Linked DNA regions of Homo sapiens. The protein of the gene in region 1 interacts with the protein of each later gene in a pairwise test. Each region holds a gene or a part of one and is shown on either strand. Other genes may lie near its edges.

What was found.
Region 2: the proteins of WDR47 (region 1) and CHFR interact in a two-hybrid assay, tested with the Homo sapiens proteins (one large-scale study listed by IntAct).

What each region holds. Positions count from the first base shown.
Region 1 is NC_000001.11:109,014,297-109,018,111, reverse strand, and holds part of WDR47 (WD repeat-containing protein 47), read left to right. Parts: intron 1-510; coding exon 511-594; intron 595-3,815.
Region 2 is NC_000012.12:132,842,509-132,846,323, forward strand, and holds part of CHFR (E3 ubiquitin-protein ligase CHFR), read right to left. Parts: intron 1,627-3,815; coding exon 1,519-1,626; intron 576-1,518; coding exon 503-575; intron 1-502. UniProt on the Homo sapiens protein: E3 ubiquitin-protein ligase that functions in the antephase checkpoint by actively delaying passage into mitosis in response to microtubule poisons.

The DNA.
Region 1 (3,815 bases):
TTGCAGATTCACAAATTCTTCTCATACAGTGTATGTTGTTACAAATAAGTTATGAAAAATTTAGGCCAGGTGAGGTGACTCACGCTTGTAATCCCAGCACTTTGAGAGGCTGAGGTGGGTGGATCACCTGAGGTCAGGAGCTTGAGACCAGCCTGGCCAACATGGTGAAACCCTGTATCTACTAAAAATAGAAAAGAATTAGTGGGGCTTAGTGGTGCGAGCCTATAGTCCCAGCTTCTCGGGTGTCTGAGGCAGGAGAATCGCTTGAACACAGGAGTCAGAGGGTGCAGTGAGCCGAGATTGTGCCATTGCACTCCAGCCTGGGCAACAGAGCGACACTCTGTCTCAAAAAAAAAAAAAATTATGAAAAATTTATTTGAGGAATCAAATAAAATGTTAATCTCATTGTGTGCTTTATGAAGTTTGAATGCTGTTTTGTCATCTGTTCTGCTTTTAATTAGTATAACCTGAATTTGGTGACATGCTGGTTTTTTTAAATTTTTTATTTAGGCAGCTAATACTTGATGGTCAATGGGATGAAGTTCTTCAGTTCATTCAGCCTCTAGAATGTATGGAAAAATTTGACAAAAAAAGGTAAGATTTTATCTAAAGTTTTTAGTGTCTCATCATTGGTAGAAGCTTAGCAAAACAATGAACAAAAATTTTCATTTTCATTTTTCTTTCTCCACTGGCCTTGAACAGAGAGTAAACAAATTGATCTCTCTCTGTCACCCAAGCTGGAGTGTGGTGGCATGATCACAGCTCACTGCAGCCTTGGTCTCCTGGGCTCAAGCAATCCTCCCACTTCAGCCTCTCAAGTAGCTGGGACTATACAGGCGTGTACCATCAGCCTAGCTAATTTTGTATTTTTTTTAGAGTTAGGGTTTCACCATGTTGCCCAGGCTTCCCTTGTGTTCATTTGGATTATTTTAAGTTGATTTAATGTTCACTGACCCTTTCTTTTGCTATTAGCAATCTGTTGATAAATTGTGAATTTTTAAAAACAGGTTCTTGTTCTACCACCAGGCTGATGTGCAGTGGCATGTATGTGGCACTGCAGCTTCAAATTCAACAGTGAATTTTTCATTTTGAATATTGTGCTTTTCATTTTCAAATTCGTATAATTTTTTTGTAAGATTTTTCCATCTGTTCATTCATTATGATTATATTTTTCTTTAGGTCCTTCAACATACTGAGAGTAGCTGCTTGTTTGCTAGTGTAGTCCTTGTTTGGTAATTTGGACTTGTGCTTGCTTATATCAGGCTCAGTTTCTAATGATTGCCTTTTCTCCTAACTGGGAGTCACTTTTTGTTTTTTTTTTTAACTATATCTAATTATTTTGTAAATGTAATCTGCACATTTCAGCTTCACTCTTGAGGCTCTGAATTCTGTTCTCTTCCTACATAAAAAGTTTGATTTTCATACAGGCAGTTATTTAACTTAGGTAGCCTCAAAATGCAAACTCTTTCTCCCCTCTTGTGGATACCAGAGATTTGTCCCGAAATCTCTGCTCAGTTCTTTGGCCTTTCATCTGTTTTCTCCAGGCTCCTTGGAGTCTCCCTTGCATCTTCACAGTTTAGGGGATAGCCAGGGATATGGGTACCTAAGTTTATACAGTAGATTTTGGTATGTTTCCTACTGTGACGTCGTCCTTTTTTTGGATCTTCCTCTCATTTTTTAGCTGCTCTGGCAGTACCAAACTTTTTTTTTGAGACAGGGTCTCATTCTGTTGCCCAGGCTGGAGTGCAGTGGTGTGAACACAGCTCACTGTAGCCTTACCTCCTGGGCTCAAGTGATTTGCCTGCTTCAGACTCCTGTGTGGCTGGGACTGCAGGCGTGTGCCACCCCGCTAGGCTAATTTTTAAATTTTTTGTAGAGACCAGGTCTGACTTTGTTGCCCAGGCTGGTCTCGAACTTCTGGGCTCAAATAATCCTCTTGCCTTGGCCTCTCAAAGTGCTAGGATTACAAGTATGAGCCACTTTGTTCAGTCAGTACCAGACTTTTCAAGCTACAGCCTTCTGTTTGAGTTCTAGCTCACACTGTGTGAACTGGGGAGTGCCCTCAGCTGGAAAGCCTTATGCTGTTGAATATAACCCCTTAAATTTCTGGGTTTTTTTTTTTTTTTTTTGAGATGGAGTCTCACTCTGTCACCCAGGCTGGAATGCAGTGGTGCGATCTTGGCTCACTGCAACCTCTGCTTCCCAGGTTCAAGCGATTCTCCTGCCTCAGCCTCCCGAGCAGCTGGGACTACAGGCATGCACCACTGTGCCTAGCTAATTTTTGTATTGTTAGAAATGGGGTTTCACCATGTTGGTCAGGCTGGTCTCGAGCTCCTGACCTCGTGATCCACCCACCTTGGCCTCCCAAAGTGCTGGGATTACAGGCTTGAGCCAACGCACCTGGCAAATTTCTCTTTTTTTAAGGATTGACTTCCCTCTAGTTGTGCCAGCTTTTCAAATGCATTCAAAATAGTCATTTTTTGAGGCCAGGCGTGGTGGCTCACGCCTGTAATCCCAGCACTTTGGGAGGCCGAGGCAGGCGGATCACTTGAGGTCAGGAGTTGGAGACCAGCCTGGCCAACATGGCGAAATCCTGTCTCTACTGAAAATACAAAAAAAAATTGGCTGGATGTGGTGGCACATGCCTGTAATCCCAGCTACTTGGGAGGCTGAGGTAGGAGAATCACTTGAAACTGGGAGGCAGGGGTTGCAGTGAGCCGAGATCGTGCCACTGCACTCCAGCCTGGGCGACAGAGCAGGACTCTGTCTCAATCAGTCAATCAATAAACAAACAAATAAATAAAATCACCTTTTTTTGGTATTTTATGTAAGATTTATTGTTGTTATATGCAGAAATGTTAGCCAGATATAAGTTACTCTATCACTATCAGAAGTTGAACCTGTTGTTATTTTTTGATTTGCTATTCAGACCATGCTGCTTGATATTTCTTTGCGTTTGTACATTCTTTACTTACCTGGAATATTAATCCCTTCACCATCTCCTGCCTTTACCTGGTACACTTCTGATTGTCTTCTGAGAGTCAGTTGTTATGTCTTTTTTTTGTTAACTTTCCACCTCTTTTGTACAATTGGTTTCATACTTTTTTGAGGCCTTGCTGAACTCTGAATATTTCATATAATTTATTAGGTGACCCTCTTTTTGAAGGCAGGGATTTTGTTTTATTGGACACAATTTGCTACTACAACAGTGGCTGAAAGAATGACTGAAGGTTCATTATTTTTTTCTTTCCAGACTTGGAAACACTTTTTCTATAAATTGCTTCAGGCAATAAAGCTTTTGATTCTTAGACAGGTTAGGTAGACTCTTTGCTATCCCTTCCCCTCTGAAAAACTCTTGTTAAAAAGCTTTAAATTGGGACCAGGTGCAGTGGCTCATACTTGTAATCCAAGCACTTTGGGAGGCTGAGGCAGGAGAATTGCTTGAAGCCAGGAATTTGAGATCAGTCTGAGCAACAAAGTGAGACCCGGTCTCTACAAAACAATTTTAAAAATTGGCCGGGTGCTGTGGCACACAGTTGTAGTCCTAGCTGCTTGGGAGGCTGAGGCAGGAGGATTGCTTGGGCCAAAGTTTGAGGCTGTAGTGAGCTGTGATCATGCCACTGTACTCCAGCTTGGGTGACAGAGCAGAAGACTCTGTCTCTAAAAAAAAAAAAGAAAAGGAAAAAAGCTTTAAGTCTCTAGTTATTTTGTAGTGTTTTAGAAATGTTCATTTTCTCCTACCCTTTCAGCCCCATTTTTTATTAGACTTTTCTCATATTTAAAAAGAAAATATTTGATTTAATCTTTCTACAATG
Region 2 (3,815 bases), on another chromosome or scaffold:
GGAGTGATTTACGTGATCACCTAACCTAAGAGATGCCTCCTGACCTACGCCTCCCAGGGCAATGCAGATGGCGCTGTGAACCTCCTTTAAGGAGCACGGGAAAGACACCACGTGAGGGTGACGATGTGACAGCAATCACAAATGCCTGCTCACGGGACGGACGAGAACCCAGCTGTGCAGCGCTTTGCGAGGGGGGCCTGAGGCCCTCAGTGACTGCAGCCTTCGACTTAGAAACGGCTAAGCCTGAAATGATGGGGTGTGCCCCGGATGCCTCAGACAACAGATAAAGCTACTCCAGCCAGGAAGACACAGAAGTGGAAGACGGAGATAAAACTGCATGAAACGAAGGGATAAAGGAAGAGCAGGATTTCTAAATGAAGATACCGGTTCCTAAAGGATGCAACCTGAGAGAAGCATAATGACCATATCAGCCTATTTATAAGCAGGCAGTTAACTCATTCATCACTCTGTAGCTGACGCCTGTGCCCCCAGCTGCACTCACATGGCGTGGTGAGCTTTCACCTGAGTGCGGCAGTTACGGCCCCAGTAGCAGTCAGGACGGGATGTTACGGCCACTGGAAAAAGAGAAGGGGTACGCATCTATGAGATGTATTGCACGCACCCACTCAGCTACCTGAATCCCAGCAGAGACCCAACGACAGACGCTGCGGTGGAAACGCACGGCCTCTGGTCCCTCCATAACTAGTTTCCTCGGACCGTTCTGAGATTTCAGGAAAGGAAACACATGTTTAACTAAAAACCCAACTGAGGGTCAGGTACAGTGGTTCATGCCTGTAATCCCAGCACTTTGGGAGGCAGAGGCAGGAGAATCGCTTGAACCTGGGAGAGGGAAGTTGCAGTGAGCCAAGATCACACCACTGCACTTCAGCCTGGGCGACAGAGTCAGACTCTGTCTCAAAAATAAATAAATAAATAAAAATTAAAAAATAAAAACCCAATTGAGGAAATAAAATTACCCCAGTTGACTATTGGATGTCTTTACAAATCTGTTTTAGAAACCCACGTTACACTCATGAGTAACTGCAAATAGACCCAGGGCCTAAAACAACCACAGCCCTGTATGGCCTGACGTCCTGCCGGCTCCTGACTGAGGCCAAATTCTGCTTAGAACATTGAGCAAAGTGCAAACAGGGTGTCTGTAAAGAAAAGAGTGCTGGCCGAGCGTGGTGGCTCATGCCTGCAATCCTAGCACTTTGGGAGGCCGAGGTCAAGAGTTCGAGACCAGCCTGGCCAACATGGTGAAACCCCGTCTCTACTAAAACACAAAAAATTAGCCGGGCGTGGTGGCGGGTGCCTGTAATCCCAGCTACTCAGGAGGCTAAGGCAGAAGAATTGCTCGAACTCAGGAGGCAGAGGTTGCAGTGAGCCGAGATTGCACCACTGCACTCCAGCCTGGGCAAAAACAGCGAAACTGTCTCAAAAAAAAAAAAGAGAGGCAGAAGCCAAGAAGCCAACCCAGACAGAACTAGAGCCATGAGGAAGTCGGGGGCTCCTTACCTGGCAACTCGGAAGCAGGAATGTTCTGCCGATACTGATAGGTCAGCTCACGGAAGCTGCGCAGGCCACAGCAGTAACACAGAACGGTGTCTCCCGTGACTCTGTAATCTGGAAGAAACACAGCCAGTTACCCAGCAACACCATCTTCCCAACAGCAGCGCACGGACTTCACAGCAGTGGGAGACTAACGCACTGACCATAAATGGGGTGAAGACAACGGGCGACACATTAGGAAAATAAGAACAAAGCCAATCTAGATACGAATTTATTTTTATTGAGACGGAGTCTCGCTCTGTCGCCCTGGCTGGAGTGCAGTGGTGCGATCTCGGCTCACTGCAAGCTCCGCCTCCCGGGTTCACGCCATTCTCCTGCCTCAGCCTCCTGAGTAGCTGGGACTACAGGTGCCCGCCACCACACCGGGCTAATTTTTTGTATTTTTAGTAGAGACTGGGTTTCACCGTGTTAGCCAGGATGGTCTCGATCTCCTGACCTCGTGATCCACCCGCCTCGGCCTCCCAAAGTGCTGGGATTACAGGCGTGAGCCACTGCGCCCGGCCACCAATTTATTTTCTTACAGCAAAACAATCCCACGTGGATATAACATTTATTTTATTTATTTTTTGAGACCAAGTCTTGCTCTGTCGCCCAGGCTAGAGTGCAGTGGCGGGGTCTCAGCTCACTGCAACCTCCACCTCCTGCGTTCAACTGATTCTCCTGTCTCAGCCTCCCGAGTAGCTGGGACTACAGGTGTGTGCCACCGTGCCCGGCTAATGTTTATACTTTTTTAGTAGAGATGGGGTTTCACCATGTTGGCCAGGCTGGTCTCAAACTCTTGTCCTCAGATGATCCGCCCGCCTCGGCTTCCCAAAATGCTGGGATTACAGGCGTGAGCCTCCACGCCCGGCCCCACATGGATATAAAATTTAAATATTAAAACTCCCAAAAAACAAGAAGAAAATGAGAAAATTAGCTATTTCTAAGTATGTCTTGAAAACCAAATTGCACAGAGGAAAGGATTTGTACATTTGGCTATCTACAATTTAAACATCAAAATTAAAATAAATACAACAAAAGTGAACTACTACTATAGTGGAAACATTTGCAACACAAATGAAAATGTGCTATACCCTTAATTAACAAAGATATCGGCCAGGCACGGTGGCTCGCGCCTGTAATCCCAGCACTTTGGGAGGCCGAGGCAGGCGGATCACAAGGTCAGGAGTTCGAGACCAGCCTAACCAAGATGGTGAAACCTCACCTCTACTAAAAATACAAAAAAAAAATTAGCTGGGCATGTTGGCGGGTGCCTGTAATCCCAGCTACTCAGGAGGCTGAGGCAGGACAATTGTTGAACCTGGGAGGCGGAGCTTGCAGGGAGCTGAGATTGTGCCATTGCACTCCAGCCTGGGTGACACAGCAAGATTCCATCTCAAAAAAAAAAATAAATAAATAAATAAAAATAAAAAAACTAAGATTAGCCAGGCATGGTAGCACACGCTTGTGGTCCCAGCTACTTGGGAGGCTGAGGTGAGATGATCTCTTGAGCCCAGGAGGTCGAGGCTGCAGTGAGCTGTGATCATGCCCCTGCACTCCAGCCTGGGCGACAGAGCAAGAACCTGTCTCATATATATATTTCTACAGCCTCCCTTAGTGATAAATTATCATACTCCACAAAGCATCGTGTGCCCCCCTGGAGAGGAGTGACCCTCACCAAGTGACTGACACATCAAGCAAGAGATTCACCAAGTCCCCGAGGGTCCCAGGACAACTGACCCCAGGACCTCTGGATAGACAAGTGGTAGAGACCCTCCAAGCTGGCCCCACCTGTTGGAGGCCACACAAATGTTTCTTATGATTAGGCATAATTGAAGCCTGTCAGTAACAGTATGAACCTGTGATCAATTTAGCAGCTGCCCAGTTGTTACCTCCTCCTTGCTCTTGTTACCCAATAAATATGAAGGGCTGTAGAAGCTCAGGGGCAGCCTTTACTCACTAGAAGCAGGGAGCTCTCCTCTTCTTCCCCATGTTGCCTTTCCTTAAAAGTTTCTTTTGTCTTTTTGTTTTCATTTCTACGTTTGTCCCTTTGTTCAGTCCTGTAATGATGGTCTCAAGCAGTAACAGCAGTAACTGCTGTAGTGAGGGTCTCAAGCAGCAGTAGTGGCAGTCGGCCACACCCACCCTCCCCTACAAGGATAGAAGCTGCTGGAATATGTCATACAGGTTCATGCTTAACTGTCTTTTTTTTTTTTTTTTTGAGACGGAGTCTCGCTCTGTCCCCCAGGCTGGAGTGCAGTGGC